Regions from separate parts of the Homo sapiens genome. Here region 1 is linked to region 2. The links come from fine-mapping of genetic effects on gene expression. Tissue or cell type: whole blood. Region 2 holds a variant in brackets; the other region holds the start of a gene. All regions are shown on one strand. Distances are from middle to middle.

The links. PIP is the estimated chance that this variant, and not a neighbour inherited with it, causes the effect.
Region 1: RERE starts here. The variant in region 2 is fine-mapped to the expression of RERE in whole blood (TOPMed, PIP above 0.99).

The regions. Positions count from the first base shown.
Region 1 is chr1:8,815,456-8,820,455 of GRCh38, reverse strand. It overlaps RERE (arginine-glutamic acid dipeptide repeats), which reads left to right and starts at 2,816. Exons shown (of 23, transcript NM_001042681.2): 1 at 2,816-3,296. RefSeq lists silencers at 2,279-2,508, 2,609-2,908, 3,159-3,218 and an enhancer at 2,572-2,866.
Region 2 is chr1:8,356,131-8,363,461 of GRCh38, reverse strand. RERE (arginine-glutamic acid dipeptide repeats) reads left to right here. Exons shown (of 23, transcript NM_001042681.2): 16 at 618-779; 17 at 1,586-1,699; 18 at 1,972-3,350; 19 at 3,476-3,698; 20 at 4,546-5,266; 21 at 7,216-7,331. Among named protein-coding and RNA genes, the nearest start is that of SLC45A1, 42 kb to the right of the region's middle. RefSeq lists enhancers at 3,224-3,723, 3,724-4,225. The variant A/G (reference allele first, on the strand shown) is at 3,668.

The DNA of each region.
Region 1 (5,000 bases), 460 kb before region 2:
AAACCCTGTCTCTACTAAAAATACAAAATTAGCTGGGCATGGTGGCACATGCCTGTAATCCCAGCTGCTCAGGAGGCTGAGGCAGGAAAATCGCTTAAACCCGGGGGTCAGAGGTTGCGGTGATCTGAGATCGCGCCATTGCACTCCAGCCTGGGCAACAAGATCGAAACTGTCTCAAAAAAAAAAAAAAAAAAAAAAAGAGATAATAATAATACACTTCATGGGGAGAAAAAGTGGGCTAAAGAATGTAACATGTTTCTTAGGGCACTGGGAACATAAGCTTTCAATCAATAGTTTAATAGTTGTTCTTAACGATGAAGATTATTTTACTGCATTATCAGCTTCTCAGATCCTTGGAAGGAGGTCCAGTACTCTCCGGCTTTATGGCTGGACCACAATTCTTTCGTGGGACTGTTACAGTTAAATGGGTTTAGTTTGCTAATTTTGTGGTCTGATACCATATATTATGCTTTGTAACTATGTGGCATTTCTGGACTTCTAAATTTACATTTTTATGGATAAATGAAAGTGACGGCCAATCCCTAATACCATAGTAAATGTTATTTCCTAACGTGGAGAGCCTCTCTCCTCCCTGCTGGATGGCAGTGCATTGTCCATTTGTCTACCACAGAGCTGAATCTTTATTAGAAATAATGCTCCTGTAAGTTTCGAGACCAGCCTGGGCAACATAGTGAACCTCCATCTCTACTAAAATTACAAAAGTTAGTTGGGTGTGGCGGCACACACCTGTAATTTCAGCTACTCAGGAGGCTGAGGCAGGAGAATCGCTTCAACCGAGGAGGTGGAGGTTGCAGTGAGCTGAGATCGTGCCACTGCACTCCAGCCTGGGCAACAGAGCGAGACTCTGTCTCAAAAAAAAAAAAAAGAAAAAAAAGAAAGAATGCTCCTGTAGATAGAGATTTTGATGGAAAGTGAAGCCATCTAACTGATATACTTTATCCCTCATCATTTCCAAACAGGAAGTCAGATAGTCCTATCCATATCTAGAATGTTGGAAGCAGTTTATTGAATTTATTAGGTTTTAAAATTCAGTTCTCACATTATCAGATATATAAAGAGATATTAACTAGTTTCCCCATTTCATAACTCCAGCAAAGAGGATTTTTCTTGCTGAAAGTTACTCAGAAATGTGATGGCAAGGATCTATGGCTTTTTTTTTTTTTTTTAAGATCTCTTGGGTCATGGTCCAATAGTATCTGTTAGTCCAAATTATTCTTTAAAGAATAATTGAATGTGGGCCGGGTGCGGTGGCTCACGCCTGTAATTCCAGCACTTTGGGAGGCTGAGGCGGGCGGATCACCTGAGGTCAGGAGTTCGAGACCAGCCTGACCAACATGGAGAAACCCCATCTCTACTAAAAATACAAAATTAGCTGGGTGTGGTGGCGCATGCCTGTAATCTCAGCTACTCGGGAAGCTGAGGCAGGAGAATCGCTTGAACTGAGGAGGCGGAGGTGGCGGTGAGCCGAGATCGCGCCATTGCACTCCAGCCTGGGCAACAAGAGTGAAACTCCCTCTCAGAAAAAAAAAAAAAATGAATAATTCAATGTGGAAATTATAATCTGAATAGATTTTCCAAGGAGAAAATTATCACTTCTTTTGAAACAGATGAGTGAATTATTTTGTGCTACGTTTTCTACCCCTTATTTTATACGGACCTTAACTCCTTCGGGAAGAGTGTATGGTATAAGGACACCAATAAGCATTTACAGAATATTAACAAACCAACAATAGGTTGATGATTCACCCTGGATTCGTGCCAGGCTCTGTGAAAGAACTCAATAAACATGATGTGCATTTCAAAAACTGCTAATCATAATTGAAATTTCCAAACCCCTCAATCCCATAAATTATATGAACTAGAATATGATCATTTGGCCTGCCCCTACTCCCTTTACAGCATGATAGACCCTGTGATTATCAGGCTTTCGGGAAGTGGGACACAATACTTCATTCTTCAAAGAAAAAGAGGTGATGTTTGGTCTTTTCCTCTTTTTAGATTTTTTTTCACACGTACCTTATAGAGTTGTACACTGCTCTTTCTAAAATCCCTTCTGTACCTGTACAGTCTCTCCTTTATGCCTTCATGACACTTTTTATTCTTTTCAAATAAGCAGTGCGACTTATCACTTTTATTTTTCTTTCTGTAATTCATCTTTTGTCATGTACACTATTTGAAAAATATTACAAGCCGCTCATCAGAATTTCGAAAGAGTCCATATGAGAATGGTTTACACCCACTCTGTAGCCCGCAGCAACATGGATCCGCGTCCTAATGACTGAAAAGGCCAATTAAGACCCGGGTAACAGCAAGATCAACCGGACTTCCCCCCACCCCACCCGGGACCTGCCCGCGCCGCCAGCCCGGCCCAGCCCGGGGGGCGCGGGGGGCGGTACTGGAGCGCGGCGGGCGGCGGAGGAGGGCCGGCCTCGCACTCTCACAAAGACGCGCCCGCGGCGGGAGCCCAGCCCACCGCCTCTGGCCGCCGCCTGCAGCGCGAGCCCTCGAGCCCCGGGCCGCGGCGTTGTCAAGGCTCGGCCTCTCTCCGCCTTCTTCTCTGCTCATTTTATTAAAAAGATTAAAAAAAAAAAAAAAAAAAAAAAAAAAAGGAAAAAGAGATCCCGCCTCCTCCGCCTCCCATTGGCCGGGCCCCCGGCCGCGTCACACCGCGCTGTACCAATGGAGGGGCGCGATACTGCGAGGTGGGCCGGGCCCGAGCGGGGAGTGGGCGGCGGGTCGGTGCAGCAGCTCCGCCGCGGCTCCGCCACCATCGCGGAGGTGCCGCTGTTCCCACAGACGCTCGCGAGCAACCCTCCGCGCTCCGGAGCCTCCTCAGCCTCCCGCACACCCCGAGACGCTCGCCCCGCTGGGCCTCGGTCCCCGCCTCCTCCCCCGTCCTTTTCCCCTCTCTCGCTCCCCACATTGTCTCTGCCTCATTTTCTCTCCTAGTTGAGGATTAAAAAAAAAAAAAAATCACCATCATCCTCAGGGAGCCCCCTCGCCCTCGGAAAACAAAACCAGACATGATCCTGGGCTCCTGCTTCTGAAAGATCTGCCCGACCGAGGAGGAGGGAGCCTAGGTTCAAGTCGCAGGAAAGGTCACGGCAGGGAAGCCCCCTCAGCCCCTCCGCGTCGCCTCCCCGCGGGCCGCCCCTCTCGGCCCTGCGCCCCGCGGCCCCGCAGCCTCCGCGCGGCCTCCCGCCCCATCCCCGCCACTTTCCCCGGAGCTGGGCCGCGAACACCTCACTATTGATGGTGTAGCGCTTTAGGGGAAGGTAAGTGTCCAACTTGCCCGCGCCGGGTCGTGTGCTTTCTTTTTTGGCCCCTCGTCCTGGTGGTCAGAGAGGGTCGGCCGTGAAAGCAGTCACTCGCCCGGGGGGAGGCAGGAAGAAAAGGCTGGGGTCGAAGCCGAAGTCGAGGGGAGTCGGGCGAGGGCAGGGCACTTCTTTGGTCCTGTCCGGGCCAGGTGACCGTTCCTGCGTGCCTTCTGACCCCTGCTCTCTCTTGGCCTCTTATTCATGCTCTTGTTCTACTTGTTTGAGGTTAAACTATTTCATGTGACTACATTATTGGCTGAAACTGGAAGGGAAGGAAGTCAAGGACTGAAACTGTAAATTTCTTGAATGTTTGTGGATTTCGGGGTGCTGGGGGGAGGACTTTATTATTAAAGTATCATTTTCTCATTGGGGGAAGATTTCCTCTTTGTGCTCCCAATCTCTAGTTCTCAGCTGTATGTGATTAGAAAATTATGAAACCCAAAGTCACTTGCAGCAGAATAGAATTCTTACTATCCTGTTTTAGTTCTGCTCTCTGAAGGAGGGTGGCTTCTATTTATTACTAATTTTTAAGATGATGGAAAGATTCGTAGTTTTACATACACGTGTGTATGTGTGTCTGCTAGGAGGGGGGAAAAGTGTTGCAGGCTTCCTTTGAAACTGGTTGCTTGAGAAGTTGTTGAAAGGAAAACAGAATGATTCATTGTTGAATTGTCATTTTCCTCTGTCTCTTTTCCAAGGTTTGCTTACAATTTTTCTGGATTACAGACTTCAAACATTGATTTAAGTAAAATGGGTCCTTGAGAAACTGGGTGCTTTAAATGTTTCAGTATCTGTTGCTTTTTTAAGGTACATTTAGAAAGTAGTTTTGTATGAATCGTGAAATAGCCTTCTTCACAGCGAATTTTTAAACGCAAAAAAAGATAACTAGTAAGAGGGTGAACTTGGTGAATTACAAAATAGACATTTTAATATAGCAGGAATTGATGCATCTAAGATTTGAAACAGTTTTCATAATTGCTTTCCATTTAAAGAGAGACCTTTTTGTCTAGTGTACACTGGTCTTTTTAGTCTCAGTCTGTTGGGGGAGGGGAGAGAAGCTGGATCTGTACAATAATAAAATCATCTTTGGGTTGATATTTTGTTCCATGGATTTGCTTGCTGAGTTAATACTACTGTAAATTATCAACCAGTTTTGATTTTGATGGCCTGGGATGGGTGGAAAGCTGGCTTCCAGCTCTCCCTGTTGTTGTTGAGGTCGAAGGGAAAAGAGGCAGAGGCAGACAGACACACATATACACACACACACACACACATACACACACACACAATACCAAGCTGAGGGCTCATTGTTCTTCCATACACACATTCATTCTCTCTCTCCCATATTTGGGACTAGGTTTGCACAGACAAACACAGCTCTTTTTGGGAGAGAAGAGAGAAGATGGGGGAAGGGAGGGTGCTTTTCTGTTACAGCTTTCTTCCACCCATCTCATGCCTGGCCGTTTTTGCAACCTTGTGAGGCAGAAGAGTGCATTGGAAACTAAAGGACACTCAAAAACATGTTCAGAGACTTCTCTTCTCTCTGCCTCCCTTTATTCCTTTTGCAGCCGTGGTTTCTGCTGCTCTTTCTTTTTTGTATATGTAAAGATAAAATCCCTCTTTATATGTTGTGGCCTTACGTTCAGCTCTCATTGCTTTTGT
Region 2 (7,331 bases):
TTGTATGCCGTTGAGGCTGCTGGCAGCCCGGCCCCCGCTCACTCAGAAGGGAGCAGGTCAACCAGCCAGAACCATTGTCTCCTGATCTCTTCTGAGCCCTCATGGCTTTGCAGAAACATGCTGAAGCGCTTGGCGGCTTGGGGAGCTGAGCTGCTTTACTTGACAGCTTCATCTCTTTGGGTCACTTCCTGTCCTGTCAGATTAAATCCACAAGTGTTTGATTTCATTTGGTTTGGTTGGGAGAATGGACGGTTATGAGGAATAAACAGAAAGGGTGTAGGGTGCTTTAAAGATGGCCCCAGGCGACTTTCTGCCGCTCAGAAAGTGTGGTTCATTTCCAGCACACGTTGTTCAGGACAGTCCCTTGGGATGAGTGCTTTAGGTTTGAGAACCGCCCTCTGGCGTGAGCCCACTGATTTCCCCACCTCTTCCCTGAGCTCCACACCGACCTTCATGCAGCCAGGGACAGGCAGGGCGGCCTGTTGTTTGCCAAGGTCTGGGATTTGCTGAGAGGCTGATAGGGTGTGCCTTCAGGCTTCTGCCTGTGGGTTGGGCTCAGGTGGGTCCACATGGGGACTGGGAATCTGGTGTCACCAGTCTTCGGTTTGGGTGGGCAGATGTCGACACTACGCAGTGGTCGGAAGAAGCAGCCAGCCAGCCCTGATGGTCGCACCTCACCCATCAATGAAGACATCCGCTCCAGCGGCCGGAACTCCCCCAGCGCTGCCAGTACCTCCAGCAATGACAGTAAAGCAGAGACAGTGAAGAAGTCGGCCAAGGTCAGGTGCTGGGGGGATAGTAGGGCCTACTCTGTCCCTCCCTCACATTAAAACTGGTTTGCTGGTATTCGTGATCAGCTCCCTCAGACACGAGGATGCAGCTCATTCATGGAGCCTGTCTGGACACCAGCATTGTCCTGGCCTAGGGGCTGCAGACCGAAGGCTGGGGGCCTAGAGAAGGGGGCTCGAGCACCAACTCTTGGGGGCCACCTCTGCCTCAAGCTTCCCAAGTTCTCAGAAAGTGTGGGGAGTGGTTAGAACGGCTCCCTCCAGAGCCAAGTACAGTCCTCCCTTGGTATCCATTAGAGATTGGCTCCAGAGCCTCCACCGCCCAGGATACCAAAATCCACAGGTGCTCAAATCTCATATACATCGACACATGGTTTGCATGTGACCAGTCACATCCTCCTGTAGACTCTAAATCATCCCTAGGTTACTTCTACTGCCCAGTGCAATGTAAATGCAGTTTAAACAGTGGTTCCACTGTCTAGTTCAGGAGATAATGACAAGAAAACATTGTGTGCACGTTCAGTATAGATGTAACCATCACAGTCCTGCCTACATTTTCAGTCCATGGTTGCTTGAATCTGAGGATGCAAACCCACAGGTGCAGAGGGCTGGCTCTCATTCCCACCCCCAGATACGTGTTCCTTCTTGGCCCCAGTTGACCCTTCTAGAGCTTTTTGCTCCTGGAGATGGAACTCAGAATGAGGGAGCAAAGTGTCTGCAAACCGTCATTTCCTTGCTGAGGCTGATGGGATGGTCTCCCTTGGCCTGATTGCTCCTTGTGGGCTTTTCCCCTGCAGAAGGTGAAGGAGGAAGCCTCTTCCCCTCTTAAGAGTAACAAACGCCAGCGGGAGAAGGTGGCCTCTGATACGGAGGAGGCTGACAGGACCAGCTCCAAGAAGACAAAAACGCAGGTGAGGTTTGCTGCTGAGCCTTGCTGAGTAAAGCTAATGCTTCTTCAGAAGCCCCCAGCCGGGGTTCTCCCTAGTTGGTGGCCGTGCCCTGTCTCCTAGGGTGGGGCTGGAGTGGCCTTTGACACTGGCTGGGTCAGGGCACGACCTGTGGTCCCGGAGCCAAGCTTGCTGCTTCATCTGCACAAACATTACTGTGTGTCCGGCACTGGTGGTGCAGAGCAGACAGGGCTCTGCCCTCCTGGGACTTCCATCCTTCCCTTCTCTGACTCCAGGAGATCAGCAGGCCCAACTCGCCATCTGAAGGTGAGGGAGAGAGTTCAGACAGTCGCAGCGTCAACGATGAGGGTAGCAGTGACCCCAAAGACATCGACCAGGACAATCGCAGCACGTCCCCGAGCATCCCCAGCCCCCAGGACAATGAGAGTGACTCGGACTCGTCAGCCCAGCAGCAGATGCTGCAGGCCCAGCCCCCAGCCTTGCAGGCTCCCACTGGGGTCACCCCAGCTCCCTCCTCAGCTCCTCCAGGGACCCCTCAGCTGCCCACGCCAGGGCCCACGCCCTCTGCCACTGCAGTTCCCCCACAGGGCTCCCCCACGGCCTCCCAGGCCCCTAACCAGCCACAGGCTCCCACAGCGCCTGTTCCCCACACCCACATCCAACAGGCACCGGCCTTGCACCCCCAGCGGCCGCCCTCACCGCATCCCCCGCCGCATCCCTCGCCACATCCCCCGCTGCAGCCTCTGACTGGGTCGGCGGGCCAGCCTTCTGCACCCTCTCATGCCCAGCCCCCACTGCACGGTCAGGGCCCACCCGGCCCTCACAGCCTGCAGGCTGGGCCCCTGCTGCAGCACCCAGGCCCCCCACAGCCCTTTGGCCTCCCTCCCCAGGCCTCCCAAGGCCAGGCCCCTCTGGGGACCTCCCCAGCAGCAGCGTACCCTCACACCTCCCTGCAGCTGCCAGCCTCTCAGTCAGCGCTGCAGTCCCAACAGCCTCCACGGGAGCAGCCCCTGCCACCAGCGCCCTTGGCCATGCCCCACATCAAGCCCCCGCCTACCACTCCCATCCCCCAGCTGCCGGCGCCACAGGCCCACAAGCACCCTCCCCACCTCTCGGGGCCCTCACCCTTCTCCATGAATGCCAACCTGCCTCCCCCTCCAGCCCTGAAGCCCCTGAGCTCCCTGTCCACACATCACCCCCCGTCGGCTCACCCCCCACCCCTGCAACTCATGCCTCAGAGCCAGCCATTGCCCTCCTCGCCCGCCCAGCCCCCCGGGCTGACCCAGAGCCAGAACCTGCCCCCGCCCCCTGCCTCCCACCCCCCTACAGGCCTCCACCAGGTGGCCCCCCAACCCCCGTTTGCTCAGCACCCCTTTGTCCCTGGAGGCCCTCCTCCCATCACCCCTCCGACCTGCCCCTCCACCTCTACCCCACCGGCGGGACCTGGCACCTCGGCCCAGCCACCCTGCTCTGGTGCGGCGGCTTCAGGAGGCAGCATAGCGGGGGGGTCGTCCTGCCCACTCCCCACCGTCCAGATCAAGGAGGAGGCTCTGGACGACGCTGAGGAGCCTGAGAGCCCCCCTCCCCCACCAAGGAGCCCGTCCCCGGAGCCCACTGTGGTGGACACCCCCAGTCACGCCAGCCAGTCAGCTAGGTACGCTTCCTAGGGCTCCAGGACGGGTCAGGCACAGGTGGGCTGGTGGGGGCAAGTTCTGGTGGGAGGGAGGGCCGGGGTGGGTCTCGGCAGGAGCTCCCAGCAAGATCTGTGGCTTTTCTCAGGTTCTACAAACACCTGGACCGGGGCTACAACTCGTGTGCCCGGACAGACCTGTACTTCATGCCTCTGGCCGGGTCCAAGCTGGCCAAGAAGAGGGAGGAGGCCATTGAGAAGGCCAAGCGCGAGGCTGAGCAGAAAGCCCGAGAGGAGCGAGAGCGGGAGAAGGAGAAGGAGAAGGAGCGGGAGCGGGAGCG[A/G]GAGCGGGAGCGCGAGGCAGAGCGGGCGGCTGTGAGTCCAGGGTTGGCGAGGTGTGACGGGGGGCGCTGGTCCATCCTGCGCCTGGGAGCCACGCTGGGCCACCGAGCTCTGCCCTTGGCTGCCTGACTCGGCCTCCTGGCAGCTAGAGGGTTGGGTGCTATTTACACCCTGTCTCCACACCTCTGACGGGTGCTGCACATCCGAAGCTGCCGGGGTAACTGCGCATGGCAGGTCTAGGCTGACTCCCAGCAGTGACTGTGCGTCCTCCTACCGGAGGGCCTTCGAGGAAAGGGCCTGTCCTTCTCCTGCAGCCTTTGGGTTCATAACTTCTAAGTAATTTGAAGGAGTCGGGGAGAAGCACAAGGGGGCGCCTTGAGAGAAGACCTGAGCACTCAGGCGATAAGCAGGCTGCGAGGGGCCTCTCCAGCTGCCCTGCCTTTGTGGCCCCCTCGTGGGCTGGGTGCTGTGGTGGTGGCCAGCTCTCTGCTGTCGCGGGGAGGAAAGGGCAGCCAACCCAGGAAGTGGCATGAGGGACTGCCAGTGAGGTTCCTGGCCTGCTGGGCTCACTCACCCATGCCCCCCAGCTGTCACTCCCAGACACAACCCTCACACGTAGACAACCCATGCATGAGCTTAGTCTCACAGGGACACATTCCCATCTGGGCCTGAGGGGAGCTGCGGGCACAGGTGAGCCCGACCCTGTGGGGCCTGGACTGCATCCTGGTGTCAGGCCAAGGCAGGGCCGGGTCTCCGTGGAGGGACCAGGTTGGCCTGTCAGAGCAGGCCAGGAGCAGGACCAGGCCCACCTCCGCAGTGTGGACCAAGCGGAGACCCCAGGCGCTCGGGGGACCCCTCACGCTTTCTTTTCCTTCTGCAGAAGGCGTCCAGCTCAGCGCATGAAGGTCGCCTCAGTGACCCACAGCTCAGTGGTCCTGGCCACATGCGGCCATCCTTCGAGCCACCACCAACCACCATTGCTGCTGTGCCCCCCTACATCGGGCCCGACACACCTGCCCTTCGGACTCTGAGCGAGTACGCCCGGCCCCACGTCATGTCGCCCACCAACCGCAACCACCCCTTCTACATGCCCCTTAACCCCACGGACCCCCTGCTGGCCTACCACATGCCTGGCCTCTACAACGTCGACCCCACCATCCGCGAGCGGGAGCTCCGGGAGCGGGAGATCCGAGAGCGGGAGATCCGAGAGCGGGAGCTGCGGGAGAGGATGAAGCCGGGCTTCGAGGTGAAGCCCCCAGAGCTGGACCCCCTGCACCCAGCCGCCAACCCCATGGAGCACTTTGCCCGGCACAGCGCCCTCACCATCCCCCCGACCGCCGGGCCCCACCCTTTTGCTTCTTTCCACCCGGGCCTGAACCCCTTGGAGAGGGAGAGACTGGCCCTGGCGGGCCCCCAGCTGCGGCCCGAGATGAGCTACCCTGACAGACTGGCAGCCGAGCGTATCCACGCAGAGCGCATGGCATCGCTGACCAGCGATCCCCTGGCCCGACTGCAGATGTTCAACGTGACTCCGCACCATCACCAGCACTCTCACATTCACTCCCACCTCCACCTCCACCAGCAGGACCCCCTCCACCAAGGTGCGTGCCCCAGCGTGGCAGGTGGGACAGAGGCACGGGGAGGGGTGCAGAGCCTGATGAGTGACAGTCACCATCCAGGAGCGGAAACTGTTCTTTTCTGAACAGATCCCTCATCCCTGGCAGATCTTAGAAGAGCTCAGCATCCACTACCGTCATGGTTTTGCTGTATCGCAGTCTCTCCTCGGCCCCGCAGCTCTCCAGAACTGCAAGGCCTCAGACAGCTGCAGCACACGGGTGAAGCCTGGGTTCTTGGCCCTGTGCCTGGGATGGAGGGAAGTGGCCTAGGCCCACAGGGCAGGGTAAGGGCAGCAGAGCAGTGTCATGTGGCCTTTGGAGCCAAGGAACGTACAGATAAGGCACTGGGCTACTCAAGGGTGGCTGAGGGAGAATGAAAAGCACAGTCCTCTTCCCTTGAGGAGCGAGGCTGGGCAGGCCTCCTGCTGGCTTTGGCTGAGTTTTCCGAGCTGACCCACCTGGCCAGGGCTGCTCAGTCCTGTCCACCCTGGAAGTAGGAGCTCCTTAAGGCCACTCATTGACCAGCTGTGGAGAGGCTGCTCTGAGGCAGAGGCAGGCCCAGCTGGCATCCTCACTCCCTCTGCAGCCTGGTGAGATGGCGCAGGGGGTGGCTACTGTGCTTACGAGGAGGCAGGTTCACCTGCTCCATGGGACTTGGAGTACAGGTCCTGTGGGACAGCCTACGTGCAGGGCTTCCTCACTGGCCACCCTCCAGTGTGGGGCAGGATGACTGATAGAGCAGGGCCCAGAGGGAGGGCGGGGAGCCACCTTGCTTGGAGGCACCAGGCGCCTCCCCTGCCCCTGTACCCAGTCCTGACATGGGAGAGCACTCACCATTGCCGTCCTCATATCTGAAGCTCTGTTGGCACCTGGTGTAGACCTTACAAGCCTCAGTATGAGCAGTGTTGAGGACAGGTAGTCATTTGTTCATTCATGCATCATTCATTCAGCAAGTGTTTACTGAACCCCTGGAATGTGCCAGGCACAGTTGTAGGTGCTGGCAGAACCCCTGTCCACATTTACCTTCCAGTTTGGGGAGATAGTTGAAAGACGTGTGCCACGTTGTGAGAGGCAGAAAGTATATGTTCTGGAAAAAAATAAATCCAGAAGAGGGGATCAGGAGAGCTGGGCGCAGGGGCAGTATGGCGGTTTCGAGAAGGCCGTCAGGAGAGGTCCGCTGAGGAGGTAGCAGAAACATGGAGGAGATGAAAGGGCAAGCTGTGGGAAATCGGGGCAAGAGCAGCCACAGAGGCAGAGCGGGGGCTCCCAATCTTCCAGGGACCCCAGGGCAGCATGGCTGGAGGTGGCAACCCTGAAATCCCTGCCAGCGCCTGTGTTGGCTGGAGCTGGGAGATAGGAGGTGAGGGCAGGAGGTGGTGCAGTGAGGTCAGATCAAGGCAACGTTCTGAAGGGAGAGACGCAAGATTTGTGCCAGCAGAGAGGAGAGGGCAGTGCTGTGCCAGGTCCCCATTCTGCGCCACCCACTCTGCTGGCCTCCTTTAGGTTCTGCGAGTGAAGAGCAGGGAGACAGCCCTGGGCAGGGGGTGCCAGCCCAACACCCACTGGCGCAAGGCTGTGTGTTCCTGTGACCTGACAGGCAGAGGGCAGGCCCAGGTGGCCGGCGAGAGGGACCCTGCTGATCCCGGGTCCTCGACAAAACTGGCCTGGGATTGCCTGTTAGGGGCACTCCACAAGCGGACGAGGGAGTGCCTGCATCAGCGGTGGGCTCGTCACTTCTCTCGGCCTCTGGAGCTCTTGCTGAAGGTGGAGGCAGCCACTTTGGGGCAGGGCCACCTGTAGCCAGGTGGTGCATCCAGCCCTGGTGACCAGGAGCCATCCTGGGTGAGGAGGAAGTCATCGGTCATTCCAGCCAAGGGGGACAAACATTGAAGAGCTGCACACCGCCTCCATCTGGCGTTTTGTCCTTTCCTTAGGTTCAGCAGGCCCCGTTCACCCGCTGGTCGACCCCCTGACTGCCGGTCCCCACCTGGCTCGCTTCCCCTACCCGCCTGGCACTCTCCCCAACCCTCTGCTTGGACAGCCCCCACAC